Linked DNA regions of Homo sapiens. The protein of the gene in region 1 interacts with the protein of each later gene in a pairwise test. Each region holds a gene or a part of one and is shown on either strand. Other genes may lie near its edges.

Region 1 (3,780 bases):
AAGAAGAACCGAAAGCACATTTTATTGCTCTAAAGCCATTGTCTTCTCCCAGAGCCCAGGCCAAAGTATGCATGTAATTTTCAGATTTCTATTCAAAGCTAAGAAGATAAACAGCTTCCCTACTGGGGGAATGGTCTTTTTGTCACCTCTTGCTGACTTTGCCCCCTCTACCCTTTTCCCTGCCCCATTGCCCATGCTCCGTATCTCATAGATTATCTTCCTCAAAGCTAATTATTAATAGCACACCTCTGCTTAGCTATCACTGTGGTCCTCTGTTACTCATAAGATATTGTCCAACCTCTTTAGAATAGAGCGCTGAGAGTCTGGATTAGCCCTTCATAGCTTCCACATCCTGCCTAACATTCTACATCTCTACCCTTCCTACCTACCCTGTACTCCTCTAAAACTATTCATCATACTTTGTCATACCCAGTACCTCTGACCATGTTTCCTCTTTCATAAAATGGCCTTCTCTTTTACTTGAACTGATGAATGCTCATTCATTTTCTAAGACTCTTCTTAAACATTTATGGCACCTTTTCCAGTCAGAACTGATGTCACCCACCCTTTCGTTCCCTCAACAATTTGTTGTCAACTCCTTGTGGTCATAATCTGAGGCATCATTATTGTGTTGCTTCCTTCTCTACTGAAGCGACTGGAGAACAGTGACTGTACCCAGCCCAAGGCCTGGAACTCAGTGAAGGCTTAATAAACATTTGTGGAATAAAAATTTAATTGATGAAAACATTAATTATATTCAATCAAAACTGTAATATTCTTATGTTTTAAAATGTCTGTGAATAGAGAACTGAACAAGATTGAGAAAAAAAGTAGATGTTAAATTTTCTTAGATCCCATAGAAGAATAATAATTTCTTTTCTCATCTCCAGATTATCTGTTAGAATACTTCAGTGATGGTCATTTAATAAACAAAATGCCCTGGTAGCATCAAATAGTGTTTAACTTGGGAACATTTTTCAGTTCACCAAGTGATCTAGTGCTGTAAATCCATCCTTGGATAGCTTTAATCTCCTATAATAACCAACACTTAATGCTATTTTAACAGAATCTGCTTCAGACAATGGTATACAAAACTAAAGAAATTATCGATAACTTTTCATAAATAAGCAAACTTGGAAAAGGAAACATTTGGAGATATTTTATTTCTGTGATAAGGAAATCTCACATAAAAGTCTTTATCATTTCATTAATTCACAAAAAGTGTTAAATCAGTTAAAATTAAAGAGAAAAGTTCACACCGAATGAAAGACTCGTTTTGTCTTCTCTTCCCCTGCAATATGAGCAAAAATATATTAAATACTAATTAAACTAATAGGTGCAGTAAGTAACTGGTTCTATTATTTTATATCAGAGAAATATTGGATACGTAGGAAAGTCTTCTGATAGCATTTGTTGAAGTCTTTTAAATAACCAAAAAGGATTTTGCATAGTTGAGCCACTAATTTAACATTGTGTGCGTAATTTTGTTCAAGTGTTTTTAAAATAAACTTTTTTTTGAATTCCATGTATTTTTAAGAGAATTAATGGCACTCCTCATGATCTATCTCATTATGGATTGATATTTCTGGAGAAACAACATTGTATTCAGGCTTGTCTGAATGTTTTGTTACCTGAAGTAATTTAAACTCCCAAAGCAGCACGAGTTTTTGAAATCAGTTTTTGTCCCTGAAAATTAAGAATAAACATAATCAGATAAAGAAATGGATTATTATACCAATCATACAGTTAACACTCTACAATCCGGGGTGAATTCATAGGTTTGTAGATTAACTAAGTTAAAAATGAAGAAACACATCTCTGATGCCAACAACCTGGGATAGTAAAAGCCAGGGAGAAAACAATATTCTTTCACATCAACAGTTTTCTTCTATAACAATCTCCAAATCAATGCGTATTCTCAATCTTTCCCCTTCCTCTACAAATTACAAGTTATTAGAAATTAAAAGGTTTGCAGATAAAGCACTGCTACTATTTGTTCATGTTCTCTATATCTAAATAAATGTCTTCTCAGATTAGAGAACATTAATCTTCTTGTGTCATGTTTTTCAGAAATGCTTCACATCAAATCTGTTTCACCAGTTTTATCTAATTTGGTTATCTATGTCCCACCCTACCTGATCCCACCAAAAACACACACATATACTGGTAAGTGCACACACTCAAATGCATCTAATTATATTATTTATAGAAAAACTCTACATTTCTAAATATATCTGTCTTTGGATTTTACATGGTGAGAAAGGTAAAATTGACAAAAACGCTAAGTTATAGAATATCTTTTTAAAGTATAGTGTTGCTATATTCAAATATATGTAGCAATACAAACTAAAGATTTGTAAAATTTAGCCAATTATCTTGATTGTGATAATCATTTCACAATGTATAAATATATTGAAACATCACATGTTCACCCTAAACATATATAATTTGTATTTGTCAATCATGCCTCAATAAAGCTGAAAAAAGGTAATTTTTTTAAATGTTAGGTAGAATCCCCTGGTTAAAGAAAATCTGGCTAATTATCCAGCTAAAATTACTATGTAATTAAAATAACTCCTAAATACTACTCTGTTGATGTACAAAAGCAAGCTTCTAAATGAGTTCAAAAACATTTTCTACAAATAGACTCCTAATACTCTGTTTGCACAATTAATTTGCTATTAAATCCTTTAATCCATTTAGCTGAATTGATCAATTTTAGGCCAGAAACTATCTAAATTACCGTCAATTATTTACACATTCACTTTATGGGTTTCTCTACTAGGAAATAAATTAAAATTACTAATTCTATTAATATATTTTAATATTATAAATTTTCCTAATATTAAGCAAGAAAATGTGATTATTTTTTAAATCTTATAGAATCCCTCAATCTGCTTCTCAATGAAATTTAAATCTCTCTGAAAATATTTTAAAGTTATAAATTTGTAGGGTCTTCCTTTCATTATCCACTACAGAAAATTCCATAGCAAGTATTTTGAGTATGAAATGAGCTGCATGTACCTCTTCAGCAAAGCAGACTTCCTGTTCCTGGCCTTGGCAGCATTTCTCCAACAGGCCTGAGAAATCTGCAATGACAGCCTCAAGTTGTTCCTCTGTTATTTGTGGCTTTTGCTTCACAAGGTTAATGAGAAACCTGTGATTTAAAACAAAACAAAATACAAGAGAAGTCTGTTATGCAATGCTATTTTTCTACAGCCTTCCTAGTAGAGAATTTTCAGAGCCTAAACCCTTACTCCATCAACCTATCACCAGACTGACCACACACACCTTGTCTAGTACTTTCAGTAGAAAGATTGAGGCTGAAAGCATGCCAAGTGTTCCACCAGCCTGGAGTTGTGCAGGTTGTGGATAAAACACTATTTCATACTTGACCATACTTATGTGTAGTGGAAGGCAATCTCCCCTCATCCCCCAGGAATATCCTTTCCTGTCCGCTCTTCTTAACTGTGTCTTATCTACACTCAAAGACCCAGATCTCCGAATCCTGCCCATCCAGTTATCACACCCCTTATCTGGGCACTGGCAGCACTAATTGCCTGCACTGCTCACTTAGCAAGCCTTTCATGTTGGACTTAGACCAGAGCAATAGAAAGTAGACCAGAGCAATAGAAAAAGCTTGCCAGAACAGGCAACATTCTTATCATACTGTGAAACATACCTCAGACTGTGATAGAGGAAAAAAGAGAAGAATGGGTTTTCCAATGAAGGAAGACTATTTACAAAACAAGTGAGGATTAAAATGCATGGGAGTTTGAA
Region 2 (3,826 bases), on another chromosome or scaffold:
CGCTGGAAATGCCAAGCGCCTTAACCCGTAGAGCTTCCCTGCCATCCTTGAGCCTCGGGCCCTCTGAACGGGCCAGCGCGGCCTGGGTTTGGAGGCACAGAACGCTGCTCTGTATTCTGACACTGTGAATAATGAAAACCCTTGTGTGGATGCAGGGAGTGGGGGACGGTCAAACTTGCTGAGCTTACTTGCAGGAAAAAGGCTTGTGGTTTTTTTCTTCCTAAGAATAGTATCTGGCTTGTTCCTTTTCACAAAGGAAAATGTTTGAAGTATGGGTATTTGCAGCCGGAGCTTCTCAGTGCCAGTTGCTCGTGGGCAGTGCCATGCTGAGGAACGGGGACAGGAAGCGGGCTCACCCGGAGGAGAAGCCGGACTCAGCACGGCGGCCTTGGCCACTAACTCATGACATTGACCTCACGCCACCTGCAGTTTCATGTTCCACCGCTGAACTTGTTTCTGCTTAAATGGACAGATGCTTACCTGAGTTTTTCTTTTTGGAGTGTTTATATTTTCCAAAAGTGCTTTTATTTTGGTTTATTAACCTTTCTCTTGATCCAGTTTTCCTTTTTCACACCAACTGTTCCAAAGCTCTGTAGTCTGCATTATGTGTGTTTTTTTGTTTGATCCTGTTGACAACTACACAGTTGGGCATTTTTGTCCTCATTTCCCACCTGAGGGAACGGAAGCTCAGAAAGGTGAAGTTATGTCCCCGAGGCTTCACAGCCTGTAAGCTGCAAAGTATACGTTCAAACCTCGGTCAGTGTGACACCTCAGTCCAGAAAGCAGTCACCTGAAATCGGGAGTGAACAGCAGCTACAGTACCTCCTCCCTGTGTCCTTGTTTTCTGCACTGATCTGTTAATCTATTTATTCCATAAAAGTCTCCATCCACAGAAACCCTACAAAGTTTAGGTTTATCAAGCTGACACTTTGAAAACATGCAAAGGGTAAGTTTTCAGATGTCAGCTAAGAGATGTCAAGTCTGAGTTGGGTTGTGGAGTATGTTTATTTATAGAACACCATAATTAACCAGGATTCATGGCCCATCCAGATAAAGCAAGTGCGCCGTTTTAATCAAACTCGAAGTGTCATAAAGGTGACATTTTAATAATATGAAAAGTAGATAGATACTCTTCCCAAAGAGCTCTTGAAGTTTATTTCCCTTCTTTTTCTGTTTGTATATTTTTTTCACATCTCTGTATTTAAGGAACAGGGAAACTTTAGAGTGGGTTTTTGGTTAGCCTCAAAGATCACTTCTTACAATCTCAGTAGACATCCTTCTTGGAAGACGGCTCACACTCTGAGATGCCAATCAGGGTTCATTTCATGATTCTTTAAAGGAAGCTGTTTTGGGAAAGCCCAAAAAAGGGTTTGGAACATGTCATTTACTTTTATTCAGCTATAATTAAAATAGCCAAATTAAAGAAATTAGACTCATACAAATCCCAAACAATGCAAGTTCACTATCAGACCCCACCCTTTAGAAGCGTATTGCCCAAGAATAGGAAAGGCTGTCACCCATTTGGAGATCTTTGCTCAACAAAAATGAGGCAACATTTGAGGAAGAAACAAGTAAAACTGAGAAAGAAGAGGAGAGGTCAGTGATTTTCAAGGTTCACTGTAGTTCTGTGGAATTTAGCTTATTCTTTCAAATGTAGACTCTTCTCAGTCACATGTGATGTGCACAGCCTGGCTTTCTTGTCTATAGGCTGGGCACGGTGGCTCACACCTGTAATCCCAACACTTCAGGAAACCAAGGCGGGCAGATCACTTGAGGTCAGGAGTTCGAGACCAGCCTGGCTAACATGGTGAAACCCCGTCTCTACTAAATGTCATCAAAATGACAAAATGACAGTTTTTCTCTAGGCTAATAACTCAATGAGCAGAAAGGAAAGTCCTCCCTTTTAAATGTATATGAATGTATATGTAGTTCACACTTACACTCTGACACAGATCTCATTGTGTCCAATGATGTGTGTGTGTGTGTGTGTGTGTGTGTCTCCAAGACTGAGACACATGTACTAAAGAGTGATACTGGCCACATCTACTCTGGGCTTGGAGGGTAACTTCAGCAAGTGCTGGATACAAAAATTACAAAAAAAATTACAAAAAAATTACAAAAAATACAAAAATTAGCTGGGCGTGGAGGTGGGCGCCTGTAATCCTGGCTACTCAGGAGGCTGAGGCAGGAGAATCACTTGAACCCAAGAGTTGGAGGTTGCAGTCAACCAGGATCGTGCCACTGCACTCCAGCCTGGGCGACAAAGCAAGACTCCATTTCAAAAAAAAAAAAAAAAAATTCTCCTGTAAAGAAATGAGGCATTTTTTGTGCACCAAATGGATTCAGGCTAAAGCGTGTGAGAATCATGATATAATGGATCATGAAGATCCTGGTATTGCCTAGTCCTCGGCAGGGCTCTAAAAATAACTCAGTCAGCAGCCCTGAGCTACTGTGGATGTGTGTGTGTCAGTGCTTGAGCCCATAAATGGAAGCCTGTCTCTTTGAAGGTTGACCTCAGACAAGTGTGCAGCCCCCTCCGGTCCCCTTTAAGGCTGCACGGAATTACACGTGCCATTGGTGCCAGTTTTGATCTGAGCAGAATAACAAACCCTTGCTCAAGTCAGCTGCCCTTCTCTGCCTCTCACAGTCTCACACTCTTGTTACCCCATGGGTTCATCTTTTGGGTCTCAGGCTTATTAACTGAATTTTTTATATTATCATAAACCCACTTTATAAACGTGCTGATACCCTGGCTTTAAATACTCTATGCAGGTTTCCAGAGCTGGGCTTCCAGCCGCAGGTCTCCAGCAGGTTGCGTTAAGTTTGCAGATGAGCGTGGCACAGTGTGTCACCATGCCTTCCCAGCCCGCCTTCCCCAAACTACTGCCTGATCCTCACATTCCATGAAGCTTTTCATTCCAGCACTGGTCGCTTCCAGCATCCAGCACTCGCTGAAGTTACCCTCCAAGCCCAGAGTAGATGTGGCCAGTATCACTCTTTAGTACATGTGTCTCAGTCTTGGAGGCACACACACACACACACATCATTGGACACAATGAGATCTGTGTCAGAGTGTACGTGTGAACTACATATACATTCATATACATTTAAAAGGAAGGACTTTCCTTTCTGCTCATTGAGTTATTAGCCTAGAGAAAAATTGTCATTTTGTCATTTTGATCCATTTGATTTCCCCCAGTCATCCCCATTAGATGCCTTAGGGCTTCTGCAAGTTTACACAAGGCAAAGGATGACTTGAACAAGATACGAATGTTCAAAAGCCCCCAGGGGTCAATGTAAATTAAACACTTGGAACCCAAATTCATTATATTACTATTTAAATAGAGAGAGTTTATTAATTATTTGGTAAGGAGTAACCAGCCGGGAGCCCTCTCTCTCATTACTGTACCTCCAGCTGTTGGTCTTTGGCCATTAGTTGATAACAAGTTAACATTTGCTCCTCTTTCTAGTGAGCAGAGTGCATTCAAATACATGACCTCTTTTATTCTCATAATAACTCTGTGAGATGAATGTTGTTGTCATTTCTAATTTGTGGATGAGCACGCTGAGGTGGAGATGCCATGCCTGGCCCCAAGTTGCTCAGTGGGTAGGCAGTGGTCACGGGGCCTGAGCCTCATCTTCAAGCTCCAGGTCTAGTCCCCCTCTTCTCTTTCGTACTCCTCCTCTTCCCAATTAGTTTTCTCTCATTATAAAGGTCAGAAGACCCAAGTGTTTCCACCTCCTTCCCCAGGGACAACCACCAGGTCTGGCCCTGGGTCTGGCATGTATTTGGAGACACCTTTGACACATAATTGCAGGAGTGATC

What was found.
Region 2: the proteins of AFP (region 1) and EHD4 interact in a two-hybrid assay, tested with the Homo sapiens proteins (one large-scale study listed by BioGRID and IntAct).

Annotation. Positions count from the first base shown.
Region 1 is NC_000004.12:73,453,142-73,456,921, reverse strand, and holds the end of AFP (alpha-fetoprotein isoform 1 precursor), read right to left. Parts: intron 3,158-3,780; coding exon 3,025-3,157; intron 1,687-3,024; coding exon 1,642-1,686; 3' UTR 1,632-1,641; intron 1,292-1,631; 3' UTR 748-1,291; downstream 1-747. UniProt on the Homo sapiens protein: Binds copper, nickel, and fatty acids as well as, and bilirubin less well than, serum albumin. Only a small percentage (less than 2%) of the human AFP shows estrogen-binding properties.
Region 2 is NC_000015.10:41,913,258-41,917,083, reverse strand, and holds part of EHD4 (EH domain-containing protein 4), read left to right. Parts: intron 1-3,826. UniProt on the Homo sapiens protein: ATP- and membrane-binding protein that probably controls membrane reorganization/tubulation upon ATP hydrolysis. Plays a role in early endosomal transport.